4 linked regions of the Homo sapiens genome follow. The protein of the gene in region 4 interacts with the protein of the main gene of each other region in a pairwise test. Each region holds a gene or a part of one and is shown on either strand. Other genes may lie near its edges.

What was found.
Region 1: the proteins of ORC5 (region 4) and DMRTA1 interact in a two-hybrid assay, tested with the Homo sapiens proteins (one large-scale study listed by BioGRID and IntAct).
Region 2: the proteins of ORC5 (region 4) and DBF4 interact in a two-hybrid assay, tested with the Homo sapiens proteins (one large-scale study listed by BioGRID).
Region 3: the proteins of ORC5 (region 4) and STAB1 interact in a two-hybrid assay, tested with the Homo sapiens proteins (one large-scale study listed by BioGRID and IntAct).

The regions. Positions count from the first base shown.
Region 1 is NC_000009.12:22,445,509-22,449,702, reverse strand, and holds the start of DMRTA1 (doublesex- and mab-3-related transcription factor A1), read right to left. Parts: upstream 2,880-4,194; 5' UTR 2,638-2,879; coding exon 1,971-2,637; intron 1-1,970.
Region 2 is NC_000007.14:87,900,411-87,904,071, reverse strand, and holds part of DBF4 (protein DBF4 homolog A), read right to left. Parts: intron 3,309-3,661; coding exon 3,194-3,308; intron 1-3,193. UniProt on the Homo sapiens protein: Regulatory subunit for CDC7 which activates its kinase activity thereby playing a central role in DNA replication and cell proliferation. Required for progression of S phase.
Region 3 is NC_000003.12:52,508,756-52,512,416, forward strand, and holds part of STAB1 (stabilin-1 precursor), read left to right. Parts: intron 1-454; coding exon 455-566; intron 567-1,114; coding exon 1,115-1,301; intron 1,302-1,386; coding exon 1,387-1,480; intron 1,481-1,593; coding exon 1,594-1,752; intron 1,753-2,894; coding exon 2,895-2,990; intron 2,991-3,585; coding exon 3,586-3,661.
Region 4 is NC_000007.14:104,183,932-104,187,592, forward strand, and holds part of ORC5 (origin recognition complex subunit 5), read right to left. Parts: exon of another isoform or gene 282-3,661; intron 241-281; coding exon 192-240; intron 103-191; coding exon 12-102; intron 1-11. UniProt on the Homo sapiens protein: Component of the origin recognition complex (ORC) that binds origins of replication. DNA-binding is ATP-dependent. The specific DNA sequences that define origins of replication have not been identified yet.

The DNA.
Region 1 (4,194 bases), on a different chromosome or scaffold from region 4:
ACACTCTATAGGATTTTCAACTTTAAATAACACAATAATACTTTTCTAATGAAATTTGCCAAGTGGAAATAGATTAGCATTAGTCCTCCATTCCACTTTACTTGTAAATATGAATGAGCATGCCCCCGAACATGTCAATTATCAACATTTCATCTCTATAGCAATTTATGCATGAAATCATAAAATAATGTCTTGTTATATTTTACTCACAGTACAATATATGTAATGAAATACCAATTTGCATAAGATTATTTAGAAAATATGGTGTCTTTAAAATATAATACCACTTATATCGTCTCTCTGTCTTCTCAAGTCCTACAGCTTGCTTTACTTCTATTGCATTTATCATTGTATATTAAGCCTTGCATTGTAGTTTTTGGATACATATAGTCTGCCTTCTTTTGAATATAAGGTTCTTCTGTGTAGGAAAAACTTGTTCACTTCTAAATCACTGTTAGTCTTTGTCTAATGAATGAGTAAATTAAATAGACTATTTTACCACAGTTCATGGCTATTGTGTAAGAGAACCAGTCAATTTAGAAAGCTATTGAAGTAACCTTTCAAACATTAGCTTGCTTCTTATGGGGGAGGGGGCATCATCTGAGGCAAAGAACAAAGTAAAATAATTAGCTCTATAAAACAGAACACTTTGGTACCAACTAGAAATCACATAAATCAGTGTCTCACAGGGAGATGTCAGCCATTTCACTATCGGTGTAGTTTCAGGAATTCTCACTTTTACTTCTCTTTCATAGCACTTTTACTTAATAACTGTGCTCTTTAGCACCTTCATCTTTCATGGGAATTGTAGAAAGTCTGTTTTGCCTACTCAAATAAATTAGAATATGTGCAAAAGTTGACACATGCAAACACAAAATTCACTCTGAACTGAATGCCTCATTTCAATTCACAGAATTTTTCGAATGTACTGTGTGAGTAGAACTTCAAGCAGCCATTGAGCGAAAAAATCTGTTGAGATCTGCAATTTTCATAATTCAAGGAAGGTTTCTAATTAATAGTTTACTGTATAGCTATCATACAATTTCATATAATACAGCTTTATAAGTTTTGTATAAGTTTTTGACTTATACAAAAAAAAAATCACAATGATATTTTCACTGCTTAGTAGGCCCTGTGGAGGGCTATGAAGTTCACTAAAATATATCTCCTAACGCAGGAAATGAAGGCAACTGACTCGCAGTCAAAAAATAAGAGAAAAATAATGAAAACTCCTTGGATAAAAAACCTCTAATATTGAACTTTGAAATTCTTACCTATGGTTTTACAAATTACATTTTGCGAAAACAATTTAGAGTGAAGAAACAAAGAAAGACGATGGTTTGGTAGATTTCAGTCTCTTCCCCACATCAAGCTTGCAACAAATGTTTGCCCCAACATGTAGTAAAGAACTGCATCCCCAACTATCAGAGTTTCCCACGCAAAATCAGCTCTGGTTTTACAGCTGAAAACAGTCCAGAGCAGGGAGGATCACCTGAGCCTGGGGAGGTTGAGGCTGCAGTGAGCTGTAATGGCGCCACTGCACTCCAGCCTGGGCAACAGAGTGAGATCCTGTCTGGAAAGAGTACAGAGCAGACTCAAACACAGCACCTCTTACGAAGCTTTTCGCTCAATGCCTGCTTGAAGTTCTACTCACACAGTGAAAGTCAAATCAACTTCCGAGTAAATAACTCTACTCCTAGGGTGAATTGCTCATTTGTTACCACCCATGCTTCATTTTTTCATTATCTCATCCTATCACCTGAGGGAACAACAGTAAATTCCTCCAAAGTGAAGGCGATGGGGTCTCTCACACTCTCATTAATGTCCATATTGCTGAGCAGTTCCCCAAAACTTAAAGTGTTTCTTTTAAACAACTATTCCTGCCCGCCTATGGACACGGTGGCTTGTTTCAGAGTTTCTTTCCAGAACAACCATTCCTTGAGCAAAGAGTAAATCAAAGACCAACTCACCTTGTTTTTCCTCAGGATAATCTTGCTGGAAAACTTCGAAAGCGGGGGTCGCGGAACCACTGGCCTGTCTCAAGGCACCCAGTCCCAGCGCAGCCCCCGCCGCAGGGCCGCCCGTGGACTGTGGATTCTCGGCTCTGCCGCCGCCCCCGGATGCCCGACCACCGGGGGGCCAGGAGAGCCCCGAGCACAGGAGCCTCTGTAGCCCCCGGGCTTCGCTCTCCTCCTGCGCCTGCTGCCTGCGCAGCGCCACCTGGGCGGCCATGACGCGCTGGCGCTCGGCGATCAGGGTGCACTTGGCACACGCGCAGTCCCGCCAGCGGCAGAAGCGCTTGTGGCCCTTGAGCGCTGACACCACACCATGGTTACGACAGCGGGCGCACTTGGGCGTCCGCGGGTAGCCGCAGCCCACCGCGCCTACCCCGCTCTCCAGCCCGGGAGCCGGCGGGCAGCCTCCGCTTCCCGAGGTGGCGGCAGCGGCGGCGGCGGCCGCGGCCGCTGCTCGCAGAAAGAGGCTGGGCGGCCGCAGGAACGCTGGGGGAACCTGCATCCCCGATGGTACCGGCAACGCCGGGGACGGGGGCGGAGGGGCAGCCACCACTAGCCCAGGGGCCAAGTGAGGTCGGCCGCTAACGCCTCGGTCTCTGCTGCCACACTGTGACCGCTCCATTCCCGAGAAATTTCTGGCCGGGAGTCCCAAGTGGAAAGTGCGCTGACCGCAGCTAACCCTGCTGGGAGGCTGGGGAAGCCGGGGCAGGACGCGCCGTGGTCCTACTGAGCTCCACCCGCGCACGGACAAAAGTTTTACACTCTTTCCACTCGGAAGGAGTTGGGACGACCGCGTCCTGGAGCTGGAGACGCTGAGAGGTGCAGCTGTCCCGTGAGCCTGGCAGAGACCCCGGGCGCTAAGTTAATGCCTTTGTGCCTCCAGCCAAGAAGGCAAGGCTAGAGAGGCTACCCCGCCCACCCAGGCTCCCGGCCCAGCGCGGAAGCCGGGGGAGGGCCCGGGGCGGGGAGTGGGGACCTTCTGGGAGGAGGGCGGCGGGGAATCCGTCCAATGGGCTGCAAATGTCTCCTCCCCCAAAAAAAGCCCGTTTCTACTTGCTTCCCTAGGAGTTCTCGACGTCTATTTTTGTAAACTAGCCTTTGCAGCCTCCCCTTTTACTGCCCTTTTGAAATTAAGCAGAGTTTGAATTTCTCCTTTTCCCACTTCCACGCTTCTCCTAAGAAAGTCTGAAGATTTGGATTTTGAGTTCTCCTTTCGGGTTCCCAGATGAAGTCTTCATGTCTGCAGCAGTTTGGCCAATGTTAGTGGGATCCCAGCTTGATAGACTACGAATTTGTTACCCACCAGAAAGATGCCTTATTTTAAATGGGTCTTAGGACAGCATCAAAACAATGGATAAATAACTAAGGGAAGTGATTCACATTCAGATTCTTTTCATGCATTCTATTTATTTACACATGCGAATTTGGGTTGTGTGTACTCTATTTTAAAATACTGCTACTTTAAAAAAGTTATCAAACTCTTCTCTGCGCCTATTTATAGGCAGCGATTGTGTTAAAGCTGTTTCAAAAATACTTATGTCTATTGTAAAGTATTGGGGAAAGTCGTTTAGATCATTATTTAAATATGCTGTCATGAATGCATTCTTCACATATGAATTTAATGCCTTTAATTATAAGAAAAGACCATAAGGCGTTTAAGTCAAAAGAGCATCTGAGATAGAAAATTCATGAATGTTTATTCTTAATGGAAGGTAGCGTCAGCACTCTGCCAGCTCTTCAAGATGGTATCCAACTACCTTGGACAAGTTATTCATTTTCCATCCCTAAGATAGCAATTAATAATGATATTTTTACCATTCCACCTGTTCACATTCAGAGCAGATATTGCTGATCTATCTGGCCTTTCTCCTACCAACCTACTCAACACCATCACCACCACTACCATCCTCTCATACAAACATCCTATCGTAGAAGTTTTCCACCCTTCCTAAGAACTGGAACTACCTAGGGAACTTTTAAAAGAGATGGACACTCCAATCTACGTAATGTATTCTGATTCTTTTTGTCTGTGTCTTAAACTCTGAAGGTGAAAATTACATACAATGTTTAGAACTACCACTCAAGGAATTCCTAACCTCTGGGGGTTCTATGATATCCAACCTTTCTCACAACTCTTTATCTTTGTTCAAGCTACTCCTGCCTAAAATGTACTGATGCC
Region 2 (3,661 bases), about 16 Mb from region 4:
GTGAGAAAAGACAAGTACTAATTTGTAGTTACAATGGAACTGAAAAGAATGAGCTGTGTCAGAAAACGAAGACACAGATCAGGCGCAGTGGCTCATGCCTGTAATCCCAGCACTCTGGGAGGCCGAGGTGGGCGGATCACCCGAGGTCAGGAGTTTGAGACCAGCTTGGCCAACATGGTGAAACCCTATCTCTACTAAAAATACAAAAAATCGGCTGGGCCTGGTGGCACATGCCTGTAGTCCCAGATACTTGGGAGGCTGAGGCAGAAGAATCACTTGAACCCAGGAGGTGGAGGGTGCAGTGAGCAGAGATGGCACCACTGTACTCAAGCCTGGGCAACAGAGCAAGACTTCGTCTCAAAAAAAAAAAAAAAAAAAAAAAGGGATACAGAGAGAGAGACAACAGTAACATTTTGGAAAACACATTTCCCTCTATTACTTTGTCTTCATGCAATTATCACTAAATAAGGCAGAGCTTATAGAATAATAAATGAATGAAATATAAGTTAACATAAAAGAATCCAGAAAGTAGATTAAACACATGAACCACATTAAATGCTGTGAAGTACTAAAAAAGCCAAGATTCGTAATTGAAGAACACATTTGGGAATGACCAAAACAAATGATCTCAATTACCCAGTGCTCATAACAGAGTATACAGAAGTTATTCTCATTCTTAAGAGCAGTCAAAACCACTGGGCGCAGTGGCTTACGCCTGTAGTCCTAGCACTTTGGGGAGCCAAGGAGGGCGGATCACCTGAGGTCAGGAGTTCGAGACCTCCTGGCCAACACGGTGAAATCCCGTCTCTACTAAAAGTACAATTAGCCAGGCGTGGTGGCGCATGCCTGTAGTCCCAACTACCAGAGAGGCTGAGGCAGTAGAATCTCTGGAACTCGGGAGATGGAGGTTACAGTGAGCTGAGATTGCACCACTGCACTCCAGCCTGGGTGACAGAGCGAGACTCCATCTCAAATAAAAACAAAAAACAAAACAAAAAGAGTGGTCAAAACCAAAAGTAAACAAGTTCACAACAAAGTGAGATAAAATTCACAGGAAACAAAGTTCCTTGTGAATAGGTGGAATCTCCAGCCTAACTTTATTATTTGTCTGTCAGCTGATCAGGGAGGGAATTGTACTTAGAAGCTTCCTCTAGATGACCATTAAAGAACCTAATTTCTATTTCCCTAGTTTCATGCAATTTTACATTTTGATGATTTTATTACATTTCTAAAAACTAGCATCCTGTAATATACATGTATTCCTTCATTACTTGCAAACTTTACCATATACAAATTATATATGCCCAGTAATAAAAATAAGAATTATCAAAATTTAAAAGGAAGCATCAAATCTTGTAAGCTCAGATTCACTCTGTTAATGTTCTGGGAAGGAAAAATTTCCAACTTTTATTTAGTTCCCCTCTAATTTCCATTAAGTTCTTCTTACTCATCCTTATAAGTCTTAATTTAAAGCGTCACCTGTGTTCAGTTGGGCCTTTTGAGACCCTCATTCTAGGTTAAATAACCTCATTATTTATTCCCATTGCACTTCATACTTTACTTTTGTGAAACTCATCACACTTGCAAATACATATTTTCTATCTATCTACACTGCCAGACCATAAGGTGCATAAGGGTAGGGATGTCCGCCTTATCTGTTGCTTTCTCCCCAGTACTCAAAAATATGTGTTAATTAATCCCTTGATACAAGTGGAATTGAATCATTATGAAACCTAACATTCAAAAAAAAAATGTCTTTACTCTTAGCAACTAAGAAACATATAAATGAAAACTGTAAAAACATGACCTTAAATTTCAATCCCAACCTCTAATCTCAACATCTGCTTTCACTAATTTTCTTCTTTGTGGCAACCACTGAACAATTTTTTCATTTTTTAGCCTCGACATTTTCTGAGAACCAAATTAAGCATCCATTCCAGATTATTTTGTTGCTACACCAGCAAAGTAAAACTTCAGGACCAATCTGTAATTTTAATTTTCAAAATTATTTTCAGGAAGGGGAAATATTTCTGAGATACTTTAGCTTCTGATTAAAAGCAATTTTAGACTAATCATAGTTTTCTTGTTTATTACATAAAAACAAAAAAACTGACACAAAACACTAATATATTTTGGTTTATAAAACAAACTTCAATTCAGAGTCTGAAGACAGATATGTTCCAGTATTATTCTTTCCCCTTAACTTTCCCACCATCTTCTACCAAAACCGAACCAAACACCAAAACAAACCTATCTATTACGTAAAAAATTATTCAAATAACAGCTAACAATAAGCACTTACTATGTGCCAAACACTGTCCAAGCTCACACAGCCAGGGAGCCAGGATTCAAACCTGGCAGCCTGAATCCATAGCTCTTGCTCATCAGTTTACAAACTATAATAGTTCCCCCATTTTCATCCTATATACCCTTTGCAACTCTCCCATTTCTTTCTGCTACCTCAATGGTCTTTACTTCTTTCAACTCTTCTCTTCCCATTATAAATAATAAGCCCACTTTTTAATTGCTAAGGTTCAAAATACTATAGTAACCCTTGACTACCATTTTCCCTCACTTGCAACATCCAATCCATTGGCAAATCCTCTTGGTCCCACCTTTAAAACAAATCCACAATCTGACCATGTTTCAGCACTTCTACTACCACTTAGTCTGGACTATCAATATCTATTCCTTGGTCCCATCAATCATTTTAAATTGGGACCTTTGCACTTACTTATCTCAATATCCAGGTCTCATTACTTCATTTCTCTCAGGTCTCTACTCAAATGTCACCTTATCAGTTATGTGTTCCTTGTCTAGGCTAAATAGCAACATCCCCATTCCTATGTTCTATTTTTTCATAGCACTGATCTAATATTCTCTCTCTATATTTTTATTCTTCTTTTATCCTGTGGTTACCTATCTCCACCCCTATCCCACCCCTACCCTACAGAATATAATCTTCACAACGGTAAAAAATTAAGTCTGTTTTGTTCAATGCTGTTTGCCCAGAGTAGTGATCAGTATGTAGTAGACGCTCAGTATTTGCTGAATAAAAATTCATTTTCAATACTCATTTCCTCCCTTGAGTTCTTAAAATGTAAAATATCTGCATCAGAATAACAAGCTAAAATTTAAAACACAAGTATTACAGTTTTCGAAACAAGCCCCCAAAATATAAAATCACATTTACAGTTTCTAGATCTTCATATTTCTGCAAGCAACATTCACAATATCCTTTTTTCTTCTTCTCTTTCAACTGGAGTTGAATTGAGGTTCCACCATACTTATCGCCATCTGTTTGGATTCTGATGACAGACATACATGGTAAAGAATTAACTGCTGAACCTAAGGAATAACTTTAAAAATTTATTGTCCTAAACTATCACACACAATCTGCATAATTTGCAGAGACTTGTATCAGCAAGTACTTTTAATCATATTTCTTTATACTATATTGAGAAGCAAACTAAAGATTTAATGAATATTCTGGAGAATATTTCAGATCATTCAAGATAAACTACACATTTTCATTATTCACAAATATTTTAAGGCCCTCCCCACCTCCATCTAAACAGATTCAGACTTATAAAAGTAATCAGAATAGTAATTACAAACACAAATAACCATTATGGCATAAATGAAACTATTTCAAATCTTT
Region 3 (3,661 bases), on a different chromosome or scaffold from region 4:
AGGTTGCAGTGAGCCAAGATTGCACCACTGCACTCCAGCCTGGGCAACAGAGTGAGATTCCATCCCAAAATAACAATAATAATAATAATAATAATAATAGATAGATAGATAGATTTTTTGGCATTTATTTCCAAAAAGGCTACTTGGTGGTTTTCTTTTGTGTTCTGTTTTTACCACTTTGTAATATCACGGTTACTTTAGCACCTGGCTATAGAAGAACACAGGAGTTATGTGTTTCTGCATCCAGCAAATGTTGCTCATAAAGCCTCCAGGGCCAGGTGCCTTTTAGGGGCTAGGTCTTTGGCGGCATCAGTGATTTTGAAGATCCCTTCCAGGATGAGCTCTCACGGGTAGCAAGAGCTCAGAGCCAGCCCATGAAAGGAGGGGGTGTTGGGAGAGGGGATGTAGAGAGTCCCTTTCCCATGACTGATCCTGCCTTCTGCTCACTCTCTAGTGCAGTGATGGGATCCAGGGCAATGGGGCCTGCCTCTGCTTCCCAGACTACAAGGGCATCGCCTGCCACATCTGCTCGAACCCAAACAAGCATGGAGAGCAATGCCAGGAAGGTGGGTGGTCCTGGCTCAGGCCACCTCCTAGGGAGAAAAAACGTCTGCCTAAAGATGGGTCTGGGGGCTCTCAAGAAGGGAAACGAAGCCCCAGGAGGAGGGACGAAGGCCAAGGGGAGTGGAGGAAGATTTGCCTAAAAATGGGTCTGGGGGCTCTCAAGAAGGGAAACGAAGCCCCAGGAGGAGGGACGAAGGCCAAGGGGAGTGGAGGAAGATTTGAGAACAGAAAGGAGATGCTGTCTGCTTCACCCAGGCCAGGAAGGGAACTGTGGCTTAAAGTATGCGGGACTTAGGTCAGACACACTGAAGAACTTCCTGATGGTGGTGTTGGGATCAGGGCAACTAGAATGGGATAATTGAAAGCTCAGAATGCCCCCCTCACATTTCATCTGCCTGCCCATTGAGTCTGAGATAACCTCTGATTTTTCCACCCTGAAGTCAAATCTGTACTGGCTGCCCCACTCCCTATATCCCCCAAACCCATCCTGGCTCCCAGCCAGCCCTGCCTCCTGCTTCTCAGTTTCCTTGCTCCCATCTACTCCATACAGACTGCGGCTGTGTCCATGGTCTCTGCGACAACCGCCCAGGCAGTGGGGGGGTGTGCCAGCAGGGCACGTGTGCCCCTGGCTTCAGTGGCCGGTTCTGCAACGAGTCCATGGGGGACTGTGGGCCCACAGGGCTGGCCCAGCACTGCCACCTGCATGCCCGCTGTGTTAGCCAGGAGGGTGTTGCCAGGTGAGGACCCACACCTTCTGTCTGCCCCACCCGTGACCTTTCATACCTGAGGCTCACTGGAGCCCCCTCCTTCACCCACCCCCAGATGTCGCTGTCTTGATGGCTTTGAGGGTGATGGCTTCTCCTGCACACCTAGCAACCCCTGCTCCCACCCGGACCGTGGAGGCTGCTCAGAGAATGTCAGTCCCCTTGCTCCTTCCCTGAAGTTCTGACCCAGAGGCAGGAGGTGGGATGCCCTGGCCCTCTGCCTACGTTCTTGTGTCCCTCAGTTATTTATCCATGGCTCTCACAGGCTGAGTGTGTCCCTGGGTCCCTGGGCACCCACCACTGCACATGCCACAAAGGCTGGAGTGGGGATGGCCGCGTCTGTGTGGCTATTGACGAGTGTGAGCTGGACATGAGAGGTGGCTGCCACACCGATGCCCTCTGCAGCTATGTGGGCCCCGGGCAGGTGAGGTGCAGCAGAGAAGGGGTGGGGGCCTTGGTTCTGGGGGACTCTCTCCCTGCCCCATCTGACTCCTGGAATGCAGAGTCAGGTGCTCAGGGTCTGGAGCCTCAGGTGCAGATGAGAACCCAGTGCTGACATGCTGAGTAGTAGCATCTGGGATTCGCTCCTTCATCCATTGGCTCATTGCTTTCCCAGGTGTTTTCAGGCACCTATTCCATGCTAGTCCGTGTTCTAGATGTAGGGAATGTGATACTGAGCAAAGCAGGAAAAGCCCCTGCCCGTGGGAGTGACCTCCCCAAAACTTTAGCCTCATGGAAATCCAGCCCCGGAGCTTTGCAGTGTCTGAATCTAGTCACGGGAGCTCGGAACCTGGAGCCTTCCATGTGGAGCATTTCAGGACTGGTGAACCAGTGTTTGGACAGGCATTGAAGACTGTCTAACGCGCCAAGTGGGAGGCCAGGCCTGGCTGGTCAGGGTCAGCCTCTGCATGGCCAGGCCTGTGGGGCTCCCTGTCCTCCCAACTCCAAGGTGGCCTCTGGGCACCAGCACGTGGGGCCTTAGCAGTAAGAACTGACAGGTGTAAGAGCTGGAGCTCCAAACCCCATTAGGGCCTTAATTCAGAACAGAGGTGTTGAATGAGCCAGTGAGATGCTCCCAACGTGCAAACAAGGGCACCTGAGAGCTGAGGGGTCTCGCTGGTCACTCACCTGCAGTGTAGACAAGCCCAGGGACACTGGCATTTGGTTGGGGGATTAGAGCAGCTGAGTAGGGTGGCAGGGGTGGAGGTGGGATCTAAGCCACTATCCTGGGGCTGGCCTTGGCAGGTACCTACACACTTGCCACAAGCTGTTGGCCTCAATGGCCCTGGCAGGGCCCCAGGCTCCAAGTGCAGGAGCACCAAGTCTCCACGGATGCTTCTCTGCAAATGCTCTCACCTCCGTGGACTCATCCTGAGAGCCAGTCTCCCCTTAGGGCCTCTGTCTCCCCATCTGGAGCACAGATCTCTGAGAGGAGGGCTGGGAGAAGTTCCTCTGGGGTCTGGGCAGACCTCCCTGGGGGCAGTGACCAGAGAGAGCCAAGTAATGGAGGAAGAAAGGGTTGGATGCTCATCATGAGACAAGGCCGTCTGTTCCTAACCTTTCCAGAGCCGATGCACCTGCAAGCTGGGCTTTGCCGGGGATGGCTACCAGTGCAGCCCCATCGACCCCTGCCGGGCAGGCAATGGCGGCTGCCACGGCCTGGTAAGGGGGTGCAAGGCTCAGAGCCCTGGGGAAGCTTTCTGGGGTGAGCCTGGGCTGCAGCTCTCTCCCTCCCTCCCCATCTCTGGGTGTCTCTCTGTACCCCCTCAGGATTAAGATCTTTCTAAACTTCAAATCCAACCATGTCACTCCTCTCCCCCTTCACCCGCCCCTGCCCAGCCTCGTCTCTCTGTTCCACTCCTGCCCCACTTCCACTGTCCTTGGCTACGCTGAGCTCCTCACCATCCCCTGCCCTTGCTCCACTGTACCACACTCCTGCTTCTGCAAGCTGCACCTGGGCCTGGCTAGCTCCTCCTGCTCTCAGCTCTGGCTCCTGGGGATACGGGCCTCCTGGGTCCTCCCACAGCCCTGAGCTCCCTCGCATCCACCTGGCATGGGTAATGCTTGTGTCAAATGCCCAGTGTCCTGGAGAGCAGGGCTAGGCACACCGAAGGAGTGCCACCAACACAGACTGGGTGGCTGCAGAGCAAGGGGCAGGGGCTGGGGCTGGGTGGCTGGACAGGCAGAAAGATGGGGGAGGGAGGGGCCCAGCTGCCATCTGGTTCTGAATGGAGGCCCTTTCTCACTCCCACCCCAGGCCACCTGCCGGGCAGTGGGGGGAGGTCAGCGGGTCTGCACGTGCCCCCCTGGCTTTGGGGGTGATGGCTTCAGCT
Region 4 (3,661 bases):
TAGAAAATTACCTTGATATTTCCCTGAGATAAACAGTCTGCATAGCTTTCTTCAAATGAGGTTCAATATTTCTCCACAGTTTGCGAGTATCACGTTCACTTGCTACCCCAAAGGGAAGAAAATTTCAGTAATTTATATCTTGTAAAAACCTTTCTCAAAATAAATATTAATGAGTAAAATTACACAGTTACCTTCTCCTTTAACCACGGGTTCACAATATTTAGGAAAATTAAGTACTGCCTGTAAGTAAAGAAAAAAAAAGAGAAGAAAAAAAGCACTGATCGATCACAATTAGAAATTTATTTTTCAAGTAAAATCTGTATTGCAGTTCAGGAAATTTTACTTAACACATTTGCTCAAGTCAAATGTAATTATACGCAGTGGCATGTGCCTGTAATCCCAGCTACTCAGGAGGCTGAGGCAGGGGGATTGCTTGAGCCCAGGAGATCAAGCCTGTAGTGTGCTGTGACTGCACCTGTGAACAGCCACTGCACTCCAGCCTGGACAACATGGCAAGACCCTGCTTCTTTCTAAAAAAAAATGTAATTGTAGCTTATTACTATAATAACAAAACAGCAAAAATACTAATAATGACAGCACAACATAAAATATTCCTTAATTGGCTAAATTCTGCCTAATACATTAGCCTCTGTATACAAAATTAGGAGAATGGAGCATCTCACCAAAAATATACTTCTTTGGTATATTTTGATATGGCTAATCAGAAGGGCTGCAAGCACAAGAACAGCCCTGAAAAGCTGTATTTTGTGAGGGAGATTTGCATCTGTAGAGGAAATAAGAAAACAGCAGATGCAAACAGGCTTTCTCTGATCACCCCCCACCTTGGATCTAGGAAAGATTAACTCTCAAGAAAGAGACTTGAGGGTCTGACACCTTTGAAGGTGTGACAGAGAAACTTAGCACAGGCTACCATCTATTCTTTCTGAAAGTTGCTGCCTATGAGGTTTCATTTGCACAAGACTGCCTTCCCTAACCAAGTCTTTGCTCCTCTCCCTCCAATAACCTGTTATGCCATGCTCCAAGCCCATTTTCTTTCTGTAACCTCAGGATGTCATAAAAATTTGAACCAGCTGGCCCCCCTTTCTGCCCCCCACCTTTTGAGTCTCATATTTTGTGTAAGGCTCCTGTGCCCATATGCATATTAATAAATTTGTATGCAATAGCTAATGCATGCAGGGCTTAATACCTAGGTGAGGGGTTGATAGATGCAGCAAACCACCATGGCACGCATTTTACCTATGTAACAAACCTGCACGCCCCTGCACATGTATCCTGGAACTTAATATAAAATTAAATTTAAAATTAAATTAAAATTAAAAAATAAATTTGTATGCCTTTTTTTTCCCGTTAATCTATTATTAGTTTGTTTTATAGATTCAAATTATCAAAACTGCAGGGTAAAAATGTGAACTTCCCTACAGTAACAAAGCATAATTTGTTCTTTTAGGTTATATTTATGTCACATAGAACCATAAAACATATAATGAAAAACCTCAAGCACAAATAATTAACTGTTGTTTTCTAAGGTCTGAACATTCTCATAAACTAAACATCATTGAGTTTCGTATGACTCAAAGTATTTGGATTGGCAGCACTACCTGCGATTGTTATAAATGCAAGTTCTTGGCACCATCTCAGGCATACCAAATCAGAATCTCTGAGGATGAGACCCAGGAATCTATGTTTAACGATCTCTCTAGAAACTCTATGTATTCTAAAGTTTGAGGAGTACTAATTAACTAATTATAACTACTTAGTAGTTTTCCATGAATCAACACTGGAATTCTACTGAACAGCAGTTTAAGCAAACTGGTTAAAAACATACTAATTCCATTTATTTAAAAAAAATATATATATATTAGTTTGTTCCCAAGTATTTCATATCAAAATAATTCAATAAGGCACAGAAAAAGATATATATAAATGTGTAACTATATAACATATAACTAGATAACAGAAAACTAAGAACCAAATCATTAAAATAATTTCTTCCTATTCTACTTCATAAAAAACAATGATTTAAAATAGAAAAATCTTCCAAATTCTACTAAGTGTAGAGAAGAAGAATCAAAAAGAAATTATTCGCTTTAGCCAAACTTTCTTACCTTAATTTTAGATTTTCAGATCTAAGCATGGTGTAATAACACTAAAGTGTCATAATGTTAACAGCAACTGGTACACAATTTGGCTAATCAAAATAAACAACTGACCCTTGAACGACATAGGTTTGAACTGTGAGGGTCCACTTGTCTACAGATTTTTTTTTTTTTCCAACCAAACACAGATCACAAACACAGATCAAAAACAGTACTCAGGGAATACAAAACCCATGTATATGGAGGGCTAACTTTTTTACACTCAGGTTCTGCGGAGTTGATCGCAGGGTTTGAGTGTGCTAGGATTTTGATATATATGGGACTGGTCCTGGAACCAATCCCCCAAGTATACCAAGGGGCAACTGTATTGATTTTCTCTTTGGTTGAAACACTAAAATATGTTTAATAATTTATGAATAACAGTTAAAAAGGCAGTATCATAAGGTTTGTTAGAGAAAACAAACCTAAATGAATATCAAAGTAGTACTTCATTTTCTCCTATCTTAAGCTACCTATAGAACTAGCCTCTGAAAAATACAGAAATATCAATTCATAAAGCATCTTTCCAGAAAAGATCCCTGAAAAGAATATTTTTCAGGTGATTTAATAAACTTTCAAGAAATATGCCACTTACAAACTTTGAAACAAACACAAACAACACTATCTGAAGAAAAAAAAGAAAATGAATATCTTTATTCTTCCATGTTCTATATATAGAGAAAACTAAGAACATTGTGCTATTTTTCTCTAATGTTTAAGGATCCTTTTCTCTATTATTACCAATAGTAGTATAAGACTTAAACCATACTACACATTTATGAATATTATTTTTTAAAAAGCTGTAACCTCACCCTAAATAAAATCATTCCACAGTGAAACTCGAAGAACTTTAAAAAATACCACATTTAAATATATATTTCTCTCTTTACATTTTATTTTCCCATAAATATTTTCCCTAAATTTTTCCTTCTTGTACTTTATAATCTACTTTGAAATGGCTGTCAGCACAGATTCCCACAGGATTCGAGTGCTAAAGAGTGGTAACTGCAAGTTACTTTCCAGGAAAGACCGAGGAGGATTATCTGCTCCTAAGTCCATCTCACTCAGGTGCGTTTTCCTGACCCTCTCCTCTCTGTAAGTCTCTTGTGTTATCATTTCCCTCAGAAGCCAGGGATCCCAAGACATCCAACTTCTAGAGGAATGTTAGTGATAAGCTTGAACTGGAAAAACTGTTTTGTTTTTTCCCAGCTGAGAAGATGTCTGAAATCTACATGTAAATCAGAGGAGCCCTGAAATCTGAAACTTTCAAAAACATACTAAATGTGAGCATAATTTTAAATGATTGCCTTCTGTGTTCTGTCGCAAACACACACTGAAACTAAGTAATACTTTTCAGGGCAAAAACAGAAAAAGAACAAAGTGAAGAAAATGTGCTAAGAGACATAGAATCTGTTACTTTGAAAGTGACTGTTTTCCAGCCTCAGATATATTACTATTTTCTGTTAAATGGAGATAAGATCTTAATTAATTGAAGATTTCTAAAA